2 separate regions of the Homo sapiens genome follow, and region 1 is linked to region 2. The links come from fine-mapping of genetic effects on gene expression. Tissue or cell type: whole blood. Region 2 holds a variant in brackets; the other region holds the start of a gene. All regions are shown on one strand. Distances are between the middles of the regions.

The links. PIP is the estimated chance that this variant, and not a neighbour inherited with it, causes the effect.
Region 1: IER5L starts here. The variant in region 2 is fine-mapped to the expression of IER5L in whole blood (TOPMed, PIP 0.92).

What each region holds. Positions count from the first base shown.
Region 1 is chr9:129,173,212-129,181,299 of GRCh38, forward strand. It overlaps IER5L (immediate early response 5 like), which reads right to left and starts at 5,050. Exons shown (of 1, transcript NM_203434.3): 1 at 2,341-5,050. The coding sequence starts at 4,841. The coding sequence ends at 3,627. RefSeq lists silencers at 1,461-1,510, 2,142-2,241, 2,815-2,864, 3,205-3,354, 4,305-4,644 and 1 more and enhancers at 1,894-2,615, 2,545-2,604, 4,979-5,273, 5,011-5,934, 5,935-6,858.
Region 2 is chr9:129,275,357-129,283,456 of GRCh38, forward strand. It overlaps LINC02975 (long intergenic non-protein coding RNA 2975), which reads left to right and starts at 7,060. Exons shown (of 3, transcript NR_121587.1): 1 at 7,060-7,336; 2 at 7,574-7,702. RefSeq lists enhancers at 1,675-2,583, 2,584-3,492. The variant C/T (reference allele first, on the strand shown) is at 3,804.

The DNA of each region.
Region 1 (8,088 bases), 100 kb before region 2:
CCCTACCTCCCTAAGCAGCACCCCTAAGTCCTGTCTGGGGGCTCCACTGGTCTTTTTACTGGAGGGAGAGAGGCTTGTCTGTGGAGCTGAAATGGACTCCTGGTTTGCCTGCCCGCCTGACCCCATCCCCCTTTCAGACGACCCCCATGGCCAGGCAACCCCATCCACCCGCCTCCCGGACCCAGCCTCTCACTTGTGCTATGCACGGGAACATCGGTCTCTCTGGATGTTCTAGGCTGGTATGTTTCCTGCTGCGCCAGTGGCCCCAGGGATTGTGAGTGGGGTGAAGATGCAGCTTAGGAGCAAGTGTTGGAGACAGTGTGTGGCTGGGTGTGGCCCTCAGTGTGGGGTGTAGTGTAGAATCAAGGCTGTGCAGCCTGTTACAGTTTTGTGTGGAATGTCTTGGTGAGACGGGTAGATTGCCAGTGGGTTGCGTTTTGGGTCAAGGGGAATTATACTCAGGGCACTAACCCTTTGTGGGGCTGCCCAGGTCCTTGGGCCCCGAGAAGATAAGGGAAGGGGAAGGGCACCTCTCTTTAGGGTGCTCCCAGAGCGCCCCATCCCATCCCTTGGCATTGCTAGATTCCAGTGTGCGGCTTAGGCTCAGATCACCCGGCAGAGGGGAGGGGAGCCCTCGTCTGGGGTCCTGCTGAGTTCAGAGATCTTATTTCGCACCCCACCATCCACTCTCCTTTACCACAGGGATCCCTGGGGCGGGTGGGGAATTCCCAAGCCCTTTGGCCGGTCCCTTCCAGTGCCCAGCTCCCAACAAAGGGGGCCGACCACGTGCCCCTCCTCGACGTGGGCCTGGAGTGGGGACGCACGCGGCCCCGGGACCCAGCTCAGGCAAGGGCGAGATGCAGACTCCACGCAGCTCCCCGGGTGGACGCGAAGCGGCCCCCGACAGCCCCGCCGCCTCCGCCGAGCCTCGCCCACTCTCAGCCCCAGCCACTGCAGCGCGCCCGAAGCGGCGCTAGGGGGAGCTCTGGCAACTGGCTTCGTGGATTGAAGCAAAACCGTGCAGCCAACCGCGATTTCCTTGGACTTGCAGGGGAAAATGGGGAGGGAGGAAACGCACTGTTCCCCCTCCTCGGCAGCTCCAGACTCTTCCCGTGGGAGGCCGATGAAGCAGCCCTGGGGGTGAAGGTGCCTTTCCTCCCCGCGACTCACGCCCCCAGAGCCTCCTTTTTCCCCACCCCCAACGCGGACCTCCGCGGACCCCCGCATTCTGGAGAGTGTCCCCGAGAACTTCGCCTCGCGTGACACCGGGATCCAGAGCGGAGCAGTCCCCGGGGACAGGCTTGCGTCCGCCTCTCAGAGTCTGGCTTGGGGGCCTCTTGGCGGCAGCCCCTCCTGTCGCCGCGGGAGGCGCGAAGGCTGGGGTGGGGGGCGCGAGCCGTCCTGCGGGGTGGCTGCGAGGCTCGCACCGGCGAGGGCAGTGTGGGGGCGAGGGAGCCAGCGAGAGCGAGGAGCTGTGGGGAGTCGGCAGCAAACAGCCAGCAGGCTGCCACTTTGCTTTCTTTTTCTCGTTCTTTCTTTCCTAACCCCTCTTTGCAAAGCTGGAACTATCCCGCGCGCCCCTGGGCCCAAGCCGCGGCTCCAGATGTGGATTTGTTTCCAGTGGGGAGAACGCGAGCTTCCCCCGGGCCTTGGCACATTCTCCCACTCTGAGGTCATTCCGTAGGTGGTCAGAGGGGAGCGCGCGCCGGGAGCCTTCCTCCCTCCATCCACTGGGGAGGGAAGAGCGGCGGGTGGGAGGGAAGGAGAGGGAGAGGGGAGGGGCGCGAGGAGGGAGGGAGACGCCGCCAGCACACCACCAAGTGGCACCGAGCAGTGATAACAAACTCAACTTAAAAAAAAAAAAGGGAAAAAGAAAAGGAAAAAACTTCCCCAAGTTGCAGCCCGAGACATGCGGACGTGCGGGGCAGAGGCGCGGGGCAGGGAGTGCGGGTGGCCCTGAAACCCCCGGCGTCCCCCGGCTGCTTTCCCCGGCCACAGAGAGCTCAGACTCGAGGCCGACCAGGCCCTGCGCCTGTGCCTGGGCAGGAAATGTGCTGGAGGCTGGCTCCGCTTCCCGCTGGAGACCCCGGGGCGGCCAGTTCCCGTGGGGGACAGGACCCCCCTGGAGCGGGGGCGGCCGAGAGACGCGCAGCACCCGCTTCATCCCCAGCCACCAACATCACCCCCCATTCTCCCACCGCCGACCTTGCGGATGTGGGTAGATCCCGCCCGCCCAGGCCGAAGAGAACTGGGGTTTACATGGGGGTGGGCGGGGTCTCTCCCCACACCTCTCTATCCTCTCTGACGCCCCCAGACATCTGAAAACAAGGCACCACCATCTTCTGTAATCGACTTTTTATTAAGATTATAAATTTAAACAATCTGAACAGTTTTACCCGGTGATATACAATTCAGTATGCACAAAAATACAGGGTAATGAGGGAAAAGGGCCGAGAAAGGAAGGATTGGCAACTCGTTTTGGAGTCCACACGGTGCTGATGGCAGAGAACCAGAGGGGCTGCAGACGAACCCCACCTTTTTACAACAAAAGGCTTTTAAATTAAACAAATCTATCGAGCTGAAGACACAGGACGGGGTTCTCACAGGCTCGAACAATGCTGGTTTCATGAAATGCAACCGAAGGCTGAACCAAGGCAGTGCAACTTAGAAGCACACACACAAACACCACAGCTGACCAGGAACTTAGTGCAAAGTCTCCAACGCAGTCGGCGGTCCCGGCCCCTCCCTCCCCCGGGGCCGCCGGGGATCCAGGTGAAGGAATTGACTTCCTTTTTTGTTTAGTGAGGACCGCAGTGCTAGGCATGATGGGAAATGTAGTCCGCCGTGCCCGCCCCCCACCCCTTACCCAGTGTCCGAGAGTGTCGGGGTGTCAGGCGCCACCCCCGAGTCCGGGAGACGGGTGGAGGAGGGGAGGAGAACGGAGCCAGAGGGGCGGGGAGAAGAGGGGTTCAAGACACCCGCCCCGGGAAGAAAAGAAAAAAAAAGTTGAAGTGTTTTCATTTCTGCCTTCTCATTTTGAGAACTTTGGAGTCCGCCCCCAGAGAGGAAATGTGACCCAAACGTCCCTTTCGGAGATAGAGTTTGCCTTTGTTTTTGCTCAGAATTTCACAAGACCCATTCCTCACCCCACAGAGGGACTCGGGAGAGCGGAACGTCGGGCTTCCCGGGTCTGACAACTGATTGGAATCGGCTTCCCAGGTCCGGCGCCCTCCTGAGCTGCGCCCCCGGCGCGCCCCGGCGGCCAGGGCGCCCTGCCTCGCCCCCGGCTGCCCGGCACCTCCTCCGGGCAGCAGCCCTCCCTCACGTGGTAGGCTCCTCGCTAAACACCACTGCAATCACTACAATAAAAAGAAAAAAAGGAGTAGGAGAAACACAAAGCATACTTAAATAGGCGCTTTTTCTCTCTGCAAAAATAAAGTCCAAGATTTTAGATTTCTTTTTTTTTTATTTTACAATTTATAAAACATCAGCCGCCTGCCCCCGCTCGCCCCCAGCTCAGCCCCGAGTGGCCCGGCGCCCGCTCGTTCCCTCCTCTCGCCCCTTTGCCGAGTCTTTGTCTGGCCCCAGCCCCGCGGGGCCCCGGGTCCCTGTGCCCTCGGGGGTCCCTAGAAGGCGACAATGGCTCGAGTCCAGGCGCCGAGGCTGGCGAGCGCCTGCTTGGCGCACAGCTGCCCGTTGAGCGGCGGCGGCTGCTCCGAGGAGTCCGGCTGTCGGCTCACCAGCCCCGAGAAGCCGGAGCCAAAGATGGAGATCAAGTTTGAGATGTTGGACGCGTCCGGGGACGAGTCCGGGCAGAAGTCCTCGAAGCGGGCGCGCTTGCAGGGGGCGAACGGGGCGCCCCCGGGGGGCTCGGCCCCCAGCCCGCCCGCATCCTCCTCGTCGTCTTCCTCCTCCTCCTGGCCAGGGTAATACTTGCGCTTGCAGCCGGCGGCGGACGCCAGGCCCGGTCCCGGAGCGCCCTGGCCACAGCAGGGGCAGTGGGCGGAGGCGCAGCAGTCCTGGTGCAAGTAGCCGTTCTCCACCGTGGTCACCACGTGAGTGTCTAGGTCCAGCACGGTGGTCTGGCTGCTGCAGTGCAAGCCGAAGTCCGAAGGGGTAGGGTATGCGCCCCGGTAGAAGCCGGGGGAGGAGGCGGGGGCCGGGGAGGCGGGCGGAGAAGCGGCGGCGGCCGGAGGGGCGGCCCCTGGGGGCGCGGAGCAGGCGGCCGGGGCGCGAGGGTCCCGCGGGCAGAGCGCAGCGGGCGCGGGCGGCGGCAGCGGCAGCGGCAGCGGCGCAGGACCCGGCTGCAGAGGCTCCAAGGGCTGCCCGCGGTGGGGCGCGCCGTGCGGCGGCTGGAGCGCGGCGCACCCGGGCAGCTCCGAGAGCGCCCCCGCGCCGCCCGCGGGCGCTCCGGCCGCCGCCGCCGCCGCGCAGCCCCTGGGCGCCGGGTGCTGGTGCTGGTGCAGCTGCTGCTGGAGGTGCAGCTGGTGGAGCTGGTGGAGCTGGTGCAGCTGGTGCCGGGCGGCCGGCTCGCGCGCCTCCGCGTCCCCGCCGCCGCCAAGTTGGAGCGGGCCGAAGTCGGCCGCGCTGGCCGGCATGCCCGGCGCCGCGTACGCTAGGTGCTGGTGCTGGTGGTGGGGCGGCTGCTGCTGTTGCTGCTGCTGCTGGCGCCGGTAGAGCTCGGCGTAGCGCTCGCTCAGGTAGAGCTGGCGCGCGTTGCGGAGCACGTAGGACACCAGGAGGTTCTTGTGCAGCTTGATGCCGCCGCGCTGGGTTCGGGAGCTGTGGATCTTGCGCAGGGAGATGCTGATCAGGCTCTGGGCGTCCAGGGCGCACTCCATGCTCCCGCGGAGACGGCGGCGGAGCAGCCGCCGCCGCTGCTGCTGTTAACGCTTCTGCTGTTTCTGCCTCCAGCCGGCCGCCGGGGCGCGCCGGGCAGGGGTAACGGAGTCCGGGTCAGAGGTTCGGCTGCGCTCCGAAAGGAGCCGCCACCATGCGCCGCGCGCCACCCGCGGGCTCGCGCTCCCCAGACGGCGCCAAAGCAATGAGTCTCGGCCGGCCCCGGCCCCAGCTATTTAGCCGGGTGCCCGGGCCCCGCCCCACATGAGAAGAGCCAATAGGAGCTCTGAGAGTCTCCTGAGTGACAGGCGCAGCCCGCCCCGGGGCTACTCGGCTGGCCAATCAGACCAAGGCGGTTCCTTTGTGCTATTCAAATACCGAACGGACCCCGGGCCTCCAACGCCGCTGCTGCCTCGAATGTTCTCCTGGGGCTGCCGCGCCGCGCGGGACTCGGAGCCGCCGGGGCCGCAGTCTGCAGCATAGGTCGCCTGGCAGCGGCCACGTTGAAGCCCGCGGCTGCCCTCGCCTTAGGTCCCGGGAGCCGGGGGTCGGCTCACCTGAGTGCTGCGGCGACGGCTCCTCCCCTTTCCGCACGGCTGGGCCTCACCTGCGGCAGGTGCGCGCCGCTCATCGCTCCCCCAGCGGCGCGGCGCCTCCACCTGCGCACCTGTCGCCCCCCCGAGTGACCCGCGGGAGTCAAGGCCTCTCTACAGGAGGCTGGTGGAGCCGCCGGCTTGACACTGGGGAACATCAAAGGAGCGAGGTTTTGGGGGTACCCTCTACCGCAGAGAATGTAGGGCCTGACTCCTTGACTTTTTGGTCGAGGGGCCTCTGGGAATGCTTGCGGAAGGGAAGTCCTCCCCATTTGTCTGACAGGAAAAACCAAAACATCGTGAATTTTGACCTTCTCTGATGGAGAGAGTTCCGAGGCCAGGCATGACCCAGGGAGTGTGTGGACCTCGCGACCAGCTGAGGCTCAAAAGCGTCCTGGGAGCCGAAACGCTGAGTGCCCTAATCACCAGCTCTGTAACCTTTCCTTTCGTGCCTAACTAATAATAATGACAATAGGGACTATTATTATGGGCCTAATATGGGGCAGGCCCTTCCCAGCAACTCCCCAATGCCTCACTCTAACGTTTGTAGAGGAGGGGCCTGAGGCTCGGAGGAGTGGAGTGACTTGGGGAACCACACAGTTCCCAGGGGGCGGAGCTAGGAGCTGGGACAGGACCCTGCGCTCGAGACGGGAGGTGAATACCAAAGGCCCGGGGACTCACCGACTTAACTTCTGTTGACACAGCTTTCCTTCTTATCCTGAACCCTTCAGGTCCCAGCTGGGGACTGAGACAGTGGGAGAAGAGAGGGACAGGATTGCTGATTCCTGGGGGCGCTCTATCTGGACCAAGAGGCCTGAAGGGGGCTGGTTGCTGCTCCCAGGGGTTTCAAAGGTGCCTGGGGTGGGGGCTGCCCAGACAGCTCTGGAGGCTCTTGGAAATGGTCTGGAGGTTTGCCTGAGGAGGGTCCATGAGTGGATCCCTGAAGGATGAACGAGGTCTGCAGAGTCTCCCAGAGATAGGTGGACCTTGTGGGGCTGGACTCAGGGGGGAGGCCCATGACCAGACGTCCTGCTGCTTCACCGCCTCCTCAGGGGATCTTCTGAGTCTCTGCTTTTTGGGGCTTCCTTCTGAGTTCTCAGCACCTACTTCATCCCTTGGTGGGAGTGGAGAGACCCAGTAGCCCACCCTGTGGTCTCTGGGTCTTTCTTTAGTCTTAAGAATTTCCAAGATTTCTGCAAAAGTTTCTTAGCATCTACTCCATGCCAGGCGTTGAGAGTGAAGACAGAGTTAGCGGGTGTTTACTTCATTTTTCCGATGAGGAAACTCGGACACTGACAGCGTGAGACTTGCCCAAGATCACATGGCCCCAGGGCTGGTGCTGTGTCCTTCCCTTGGCCCCCTCGAACAATCTCAAACGCTTTGGGCCCCTGTGACCAATAGCACCTCTCCAGGCCTCCTCCCAGAGAAGCCAGGATTGAAATTTCAGGGGACTTCAGATAAAGGATGTCCTACCTACATTTTATTGGTGATACAGACCTACAGGCTGTGGAACTTGCTCAGGTGATAACACGTAGAAGTAAAAATACACTGCCCTTCACTTCCCTGGTGCCTGTCTTAAAGGCACACAAAGACTTTATTTATGGCCGGGCGCGGTGGCTCACGCCTGTAATCCCAGCACTTCGGGAGGCCGAGGCGGACAGATCACGAGGTCAGGAGATCAAGAGCTTCCTGGCTAACACAGTGAAACCCTGTCTCTACTAAAAATCACAAAAAATTAGCTGGGCGTGGTGGCGGGTGCTTGTAGTCCCAGCTATTTGGGAGGCTGGGACAGGAGAATGGTGTGAACCCGGGAGGCGGAGCTTGCAGTGAGCCCAGATGGCGCCACTGCACTCCAACCTGGGCAACAGAGTGAGACTCCGTCTCAAAAAAAAAAAAAAAAAAAGACTTTATTTATTTATGTTTGAAGTTCACCTTTGAGACATCACTAGCATGCAGAGGGATCTGGGAGCTCTTACCGGCTTTACAGCTGTGAGGACTCTGTATGCAACAGTGAAGTCTGGGATCCACAGTGTCTGGCACACTGCAAGCCCACAGCTCCAGAAAATATTATCAGCACTGATTTGGGGTCTTCTTTCTGTCATGGCCCAGTGTTTATTGGGGGAAACTAAGAGTTTACACACCTTGCTTGAGGTCACATACCAGCAAGGGGTGGAGTCAAGATCTGAGCCCAAACCCATCTGTTTCCAGGGTGGGAGTTCACCAGAGGTTCCTCCAAATCAGCTTCCGCTGTCAGTGGAGCCAAGGCCAGTTCTCAGGGCCCAGCTCTTGGTGAATATGATCTTGGTTTGATCGACCCCCACCGCTTTACTGCCAAGTGCTGTGGGACCAGGGCCCATAAGGAAGCAAATGTCAGTCTCAGCCTCAGCCCCTCATTCAGAGCTGTACCCCAGAACATGAATCTGGGGGCCCAGATGGGGAAACAGGGCAGGGATGGAGGTGGATTTCCACCTACAGGTTGGGGGCAGAAGGACCAGGCCCCTCACATGGGCAGCTCCTCGTGGCACCTCCTAGTCCCCCACAAGGTGAGTTTGGGGATCTTTGAAGTTCCTTTCATTCACTGGGGCCAGCTGAGAAGTGGTCAGCCTCTTCTGGGTGGCCCCATCCTCTGGGTCTGTTGGGGGCCCACACTCTGTCT
Region 2 (8,100 bases):
GAGTGCAGGGGCACAATCACAGCACACTGCCACCTTGACTTCCTGGGCTCAAGCAAACCTCCCACCTCAGCCTCCTAAGCAGCTGGGACCACAGGCACATGCCACCATGCCCAGCTAATTTTTGTATTTTTTGTAAGGACGAGGTCTCACTATGTTGCCCAGGCTGGTCTCAAACTCCTGAGCTCAAGTGATCCTCTAGTCTCGGCCTCCCAAAGTGCTGAGATTACAGGTGGGAGCCCCTACATCTGTTCTGAAATCTTCTTCGCCCTTCCCCCCACCCCCTTGTCAGCCCCTACGTCAACAGCCACGTCCATGATACACCCTGGGTCCTGACTTGGTCAGTAACACCCTCCCATCTGCCATTTCCGCCTGAAGCATCCCATCTTGGAGCACTGCCTCTTGTCTTTCCACACATTCCCTCTGCAACCTTAACTCTGATCTTTCTTTGCCTCTTGCCATCTGCCCCCAGGGCACATTCCTTTTCCTTCACCTCCCGTGTCCTCTGCTTCCTTGGGTTCCAGGCTCATTGTCTGCTGCAGACGCCCTCAGTCACCCTGCCCTCCCCCTCCTCCATCCACCTGGCAGAACCCCTGTCCCGGTTGAGTTCTGGGTGCTGCTCAGTGTGCTCTGACATCCAAGCAGCGGAGCCCTGGACAAAGCCACCTGATGGCACAAACAGCTTTATATCTCATGACCTTGACCTCCAACAAACATTTGTGCTGTCCAGCAATCCTCTGTGTTCCTCGGTCAGCTTGCAGCCCCCGTCTCCCAGACCACAACTTCTCTCTCTCCCCAAACCTCCAATACCCCACCCTCCCTCAGCCCTCATTCTCACTGTCGGATGATAGGTTGCTTTTTTTTTTTTTTGAGGCAGGATCTTGCTATGTTGCTGAGGCTGGAGTACAGTGGTGTGATCACGATTCACTGCAGCCTCAAACTTCTGGGCTAAAGTGATCCTCCCTCCTCATCCTTCTTGAGTAGCTGGGGCTACAGGTACACATCACCACGCCTGGCTAGCTTTTTTTTCTTTTTCTTTTTTGTAGAGACAGGGTCTCACTATGTTGCACAGGCTGGCCTCAAACTCCTGAGCTCAAGACATCCTCCTGCCTTGGCCTCCCAGAATGTTGGGATTACAGGCATGAGCTTCATTGAAAACGCAGAGGCAATCAGAGGCATTCCTGGCCCTGCACTCACCAGCCTCCCTGGGTGTCCCCCTGGGCAGCTGCCCCTCCTTTCATGCCCATCAGCTGTCCCTCCTCTCATGCCCGTCAGGTCCTTCCCTGCCCGGGCCCCGTGCACCTCGCTTCCTCTCCACCTTCCCCTGGCTTCCCTTCACATGGCCCCATCTCTCCTGCGTCACCAGCTGTTTCCTCTCCTGGGTCAGCCCCATCAGCATGCCACAAACATGCAGGAATGCCCCCAGATTGTAAGAAGCCACCCTCTGACCCCACAATCCCCTTTAGCTTCCGCCGTGCTTATCCGATCCCCTTCCAGCATATTCCCTTGGAAGGGTGGTCTCTGTGCTGTCTCTCCGCTCCTCCCCCGGCCCCCATCATCCCCCAGGCCCACCAAAGTTGGGCTCCCAGCCCTGCCATTCCACCCAAACAGCTCTTGCCAAGGTCAGCATTGACCATCACAGTCCTCCACCTGCCAGCAGCCTCAGACATGGCCGCTCACTCCTTCTGTCTGTCAACACACCCTTCTCCTGGCCCCAGGACATGGCTTTGCCTCCCACTTTGCCTCCCTGCCTCTCATTTGCTCCTCCTGTCCTGTGTAAACTGCCTGCCCGCCCTCTTACTGGGAGAGCTCTTCCATCCCAGGCGCTGGGTCCCAGGTTCCTCCCCGAAGTCCGGCCCCTCCCCTGACCTCTAGGCCTGCACTCCCAAAGGACGGGTTCCTCGATCCTCAAACTTAATGTTTCCCAAACCCCATCTCCTCCACTGATAAGCTTGAAACCTGCTCCTCCCACAGCAAATGGAAATTGCGTGCTCTGCTTCCTCAGGTCAAAGCTCTTGGAGCAGCCCTTGACCCCCACCTCTCCATTACATCCACGTGATGGGTTGCCTTTTTTTTTTTTTTTTGAGACAGGGTTTCACTCTGTCACCCAGGCTGGGGTACAGTGGCACAATCATAGCTAGACCAGCGATCGTCTGAGCTCTCACTTTAAAACACACTTGAGGCCCGGTATGGTGGCTCAAGCCTGTAATCCTAACCCCTTGGGAGGCCAAGGAAGGTGGATCATCTGAGGTCAGTTCGAGACCAGTCTGGCCAGTATGGTGAAACTCTGTCTCTACTAGGCCAGGCGCGGTGGCTCATGCCTGTAATCCCAGCACTTTGGGAGGCCGAGGCGGGCAGATTATGAGGTCAGGAGATTGACACCATCCTGACTAACACAGTGAAACCCCATCTCTACTAAAAATACAAAAAATTAGCCGGGCATGGTGGCAGGTGCCTGTAGTCCCAGCTACTGGGGAAGCTGAGGCAGGAGAATGGCGTGAACTGGGGAGGCAGAGCTTGCGGTGAGCTGAGATCGCGCCACTGCACTCCAGCCTGGGCGACAGAGTGAGACTCCGTCTCAAAGAAAAAAAAAAACAAACCCTGTCTCTCCTAAAAATACAAAAATTAGCTGGGTGTGGAGGTGCATGCTTGTAATTCCAACTACTCGGGAGGCTGAGGCAGGAGAATCGCTTGAACCTGGGAGGCGGAGGTTGCAGTGAGTGGAGATCGCCGTCAGTGCACTCCAGCCTGGGTGACAGAGCGAGACTCCGAGACTCCGTCTCAGAAAAAAAACAAAATGAAACAAAAACCTCACACATTTGGCCCCCGGCCCCTTTCCAGGGTGCCTGGGACCCAGGGCTGGGCCATCCCCGCTCCCCCATAAGAATGCCGCAGTTCCCCACAGTCTCCCAGCTCCACCCTTCTCCACACAGAAGCTAAAAGACCCTTTTAAAATGCAAGTCAAATCCCATCTCTTGCCGGCTCAGAACCCCCCAGGGGCTTGCGGAGAGGAAGATGCAAAGTCCTAGCTGCTGCCCACCAGGCCTGACTGACCTACGTGGCTGACCCCATCACAGGCCCCAGGAAGGCAGGGCTGTGTCTGTCTGGTCGTGGGTGTCTCGGCACCCAGGCCATGCATCGGTACATATTTGATGGATGAATAAGTGACGGATGGGTGACTGCGGCTTCCCTGGGAGGCTCCGCCCTGCCTTGGAACCCAGCCCAGCCCAGCCTCCGCGCTTCCCTGCCTGCCTGGGCCTGCACCTGGCCAACCCCCGCAACAACCTCCACCAGGTGTGCAGCCTTGAAAACTGTTGGTTCTGGTTGCCAACTCTCCTAGCAGAGAGGGGTGCTCCAGGGACCAAGGGTCTGTGGTACCTGAGCAAATCTCTTCTAGCTGCCCTGACCACCCTCCTGTGGGTCCCTCTCCTCCATTTCCCCCACCTGGTGGGTGGGGCTGAGGGAGCAGAGACCACGCCCCCAATCCAGCCACACTCTTCTTCCAGCCAACCAAGCACCAGAAAACCAAGATTTGCACAAAGAGCTGGTGGCCTGGGAGCAGGTCCCTCAGGCTCCTCACATCTGCCCTGCAGAAGGGGCAGACATTGTCTCATTCTGGGAGTCACTCATGGTACCGAGATCAAACCCCCAGGTAACCCCCACACAGCCTTGCACAAGCCTTGCTTCTCACTTTGGACATCTACATTGCACCACTTGGGGTCGTCATTTGTAGCCAGCGAGGTGACCTGGGTGGGGGCAGAGCTGGATCTAGAACCCCCCCCCCGGTCCCTCCCCTGGGCAAGGGC[C/T]CCACATTTCCTTTTCCAGTGATGCTCCCATGCCCAGAATCTTTCTGGACTCCAGCTGCAGAATGGCCATTCATCTCGGGTTTCAATTTCCCACCTGCCCCTTTGACCTCCCCAGGCGGGGAGCGGGGGCCTTGGCTGGGCTTGTCGCTGGGGCTTGGGGGCAACTCGCCCAGTGAGAACCTGCTACGTGCCAGGTGCGCCTCTCACCCAGTCCTCACAGCAGCCCTGCATCTTCACAAATGAGAAAACAGGCCGGGCGCGGTGGCTCATGCCTGTAATCCCAGCACTTTGGGAGGCCAAGGTGGGTGGATCACCTGAGGTCAGGAGTTCCAGACCAGCCTGGCCAACATAGTGAAACCCCGTCTCTACTAAAAATACAAAAATTAGCCGGGTGTGATGGCGGGCGCCTGTAATCCCAGCTACTCAGGAGGCTGAGGCAGGAGAATCACTTGAACCCGGGAGGCAGAGGTTGCAGTGAGCCGAGATCGTGCCACTGCACTCCAGCCTGGGCGACAAAGGGAGACTCTGTGTTAAAAAATAAATAAATAAAAGAAAAGAAAACAAAGAAGAAAGGTCCCTGGTTAGGGCCACGGGGGGATGCAGCAGGGCCCATGGCCTGGGAGGGGGTGGTGGCTGGGCGGTGCCAGGATGGAGAGATACATCTGTCTTATAAGAGTGGGCAGACAGGCCCTTGTTCCAGGAGCTGAAATGAAACAGAACTGTGTATATATCTTCTCATCTATAGACTAAATTAAACTAACTCATAGAAATAGTCTGTTTTAAGTTTCTTTACTTAAAAGTATCTTACACGTTTAACACCTGCCAATACACGTATGTACGTGATATTCAGTAATGATCATTGCAAACTGGGCACGGTGGCTCATGCCTGTAATCCCGACACTTTGGGAGGCTGAGATGGGAGGATCACTTGAACCCAGGAGGTTGAGGCTGCAGTGAGCTGTGATGGTGCCACTGCCCTCCAGCTTGGGTGACAGAGCAAGATCCTGTCTGTAAATAATAATAATAATAGTAATAACTGCGACCACCTATACAAATTTCATCTATACATCCCAGGTATTGTGCACCCTCCATACAAATGTATGAAAATTCACAGAAAGCCTGTGCTTGGTCAGTGCTATCATCAGGCCTATTTGGCAGATGCAGAAACAGGCTCACAGAAGGGAAGTCACTTGCTGAAAGCCACATGGCTGGCACGGGGTGGCACTGAGACTTGCACCCAGATCTGGGCAGCATTAAAACCCCTGCCCCACCCGTGGTCCTCTCCTGTCTCCGTGTTAGCGTGGAGCCCTGAGATGTTTTAGGAGCCGGCTTTCCGATTTCCATCTGTGTTTGTGGTGATTGCCCTGATCTTTCAGGCATTCTGCCCTAGAAAGCCCCTTGGGGAGGGGGCTTCCTGTTTCACCTGCTTGGACGTGGCTTTGGAGCTAAGACCGAGAGGAGTCAAGGTGGGATTCCTCGGATGCCCTGAGGGAGTGCGATGGGATGCCTGGGGGCTGCTCCTCCAGCCTCAGACACTCCTGCCCACAGCCCCTGGCCAGGCCCTGCCTGAGCCACTGCTCTAGGCTGCAAAGGGCTGGCTCTCATTTCCTAATTCATCCTGCCAGCTGGAGCCAAGGTGGACTCTCCCCATAGACTGGGATGAGTGCCCTGGCCCAGCTGGACCTGGTGGTGGCTATGAGCCCCCTTGTGTCACCTTTTCCCTACCCAGGGCTCATCACAAGCTGCAGGGGGATGCTCTTGGGTCTCAGGGAGAGTGGCCTGAGTCCCCCGGGGCTTCTGAGTGCATCCAGGCTGCTCTGCTGACCCTGGAAGGCAACCAGGGAAGCTGTGAGGTCAGGGTAAGGGATGGGCCTCAAGAGCGGGTCATGGCCCAGCTGGGGCCTGTGTGGACAGAGGCCTCACTGTCTCCACTGCATGCAGGGAGTCTTGAGGCCAAGTGACACATTTGCCACCTGTGACATACGCCACCAGCCCGTGTGTCTGTGCCCCAGATACAGCCAGCCAGTGCAGAGTGAGGCCTGCCAGGGCCCTGTGTTGTGGGGATGTGACAGAGCTGCCAGTCCTGGTGCAGGTGAGACGTCACCGCCATCCCAGCTGGTCTCCACCTGGAGGACAATTTGGGGACCTCCTGGCACCCTCATGCGTTCCCTCCCCCTTGTTCTGCGTGACTGCCTGTTTTAATTCACATGTCCCTTTCTAAGACTTACAACTGCATTTCTCATAAAGGAAATTATTGGCACAGGGGATAATTGTGATCCAACTCTCTGGCTTCACTTAGAAATCGAGAGGGTGGTCAGTGGGGTCCCACTTACGAGAAGTTCCGGATGGCAGAACAGTACTACAGACATCATGGTCCTCAGGAGGATGCTGTCCTGCCCCAGAGAGGCCGCCGAGGGCTGGCGGAGGGGACCTGGAAGGCAGGTGGGGTTGACTGAGATGTGCCAGGTCGGGAGGGAATCCCAGGGCGGGGACCCTAGAGAAAGCGTGGCACATCTGTGGAGAGCGGACGGGCCACGCTGGGAGTGGAGGGCTGAGGGCTATGTCAGCCCGCTCCAGCAGGAGGACATGAGCCAGGCCTGTCCAGAGGGCTTCTGCAACCTCTTCTGGAAAAAGGACCAGGGAGGTACCTGTTTCATGCCCAGGAGGTCATGATAGTGCCTATCAGCGTTAAATGCCATCTGGTCCTTGCCTCGCAAGGAGCCCTGTCCCCTGGTTCACTGGCTTAGGGGTGCCCCTCAGGTCAGTGTTTCCCCAGTGTGGGGTGGGCACCCTCGGTGACCTAGGAGACAGTGACGTCAGGGATCACACAGCCTCATACCACACAAAGGTGATTCCCTTCTCTGTCTCAGCCCTCTGGTCCCCTGGAGGGGAAGCTTGCAACTCCCCAACGCTTTTCTATCAAAATGCCATCGGCAGGCAACAATAGCCAGCTAGAATTTCCTAACATTGCTTATTTTAATTGTAATTTATTTTTACTTTTACCTTCTATTTATGGCCCATGATCTTAGTTTTTTTTCCACCTAACAGTAGTCACATAAAGTTCCCTTATGGATGCATTTACCTAAGTAATAGCAGTGAATGCTTTTAAAGAAAAATAGAGAGCAAATAACAGAATAAGGTGCCACTGGAAGGGCCGGGTCAAGAGGAGGGGGTGGACGGACCTGTGGGTGGCACTGGCTTTTCGTAACTCAGGAATCAGGAAGTGTAGTTGACACTTGTTTTGTTATGTTTGCTCCAATGGAAAAGGAAGCTGTGGGTGGAGACACATCTGACGGGAGGGATTTGGATCCTGCCAGCTCGTCCCTGCAACCCCCTACTCCGGTCCCCTCAAACCTGTCCGTGGCTGGCAGCCCTGTGATACCTCGCCACATTCTGCAACAGAATCCGAGATAGAGGTAGAAGTGGGGGAGTACGTCGTGGCTGTCAGGGCAGCTTTCTGTAAAATGCTGCCTGGAGGAGCATGTGATTCCAGACCCTCCTCTCTGCAACGAAAGTGAGGTTGACACCTGCAGGTATGATTGTAACACGACTTTTAGTTCAGGTGAGCGCAGCCTTCCTCTCCTGGAGCTCTGGCTCATCCAGCCCTGAGCTCCCCAGTCCAAGGCTCTCCGGGTACCTTGGGCAGCCTCCCTAGCAGGGCGGTGGGATCGGACCAGCTGTTCCCGGCTGCTGGTCCGTTCCAAGCTGCAAGGGCCTAGGTGCGGAGCAATGACCGGCAGGCCGAGCTCCCTCCCTCCCTCTCGTTGCAGGCCTGGGGCCTCCTGGCCCACTGAGCAGAACACACAGAAGCTGGGCCCACCCCTGCCCTCCCCACAAAGGGTCACGGGAGCCACCGCCTGACTTTGAAGCCCACTGACTTGCGGCTGACAAGAGAAAAGGTATTTGGAATTAAGTGAAGGGCGGGAGGCAGGGGCGGGCTAGGCCCTGGGGTCACATAGCTGCAGGCACCTTGACTGCAGCTGCCGTTGGCCCCAGTCCCTTACTTTCTAGGGTTCTGCAGTGGGCCAGAGAAGGGACTATTATTATTATTTCATAACATTTCATCCTGGCTTATTTCTAGCCCCTCAAACGGTGTCCGTACAGGGTTGAACTGCCAAGGGCTCCCAGACCCCTGCTGCCAAGGGGCGGCTGGCTTGTGGTGGCTCTGGGGAGGCAGTGGTGCCCGTCACTGGCACTGGGGAATCTTGTCTGACTTCCCTTTTCCTCCATCTCCTCCCCAGGGCCCGGCTTTTCCTGTGCCCTTCATTTTCCTCCCCCTGTTCTGGGACTTGTGGGT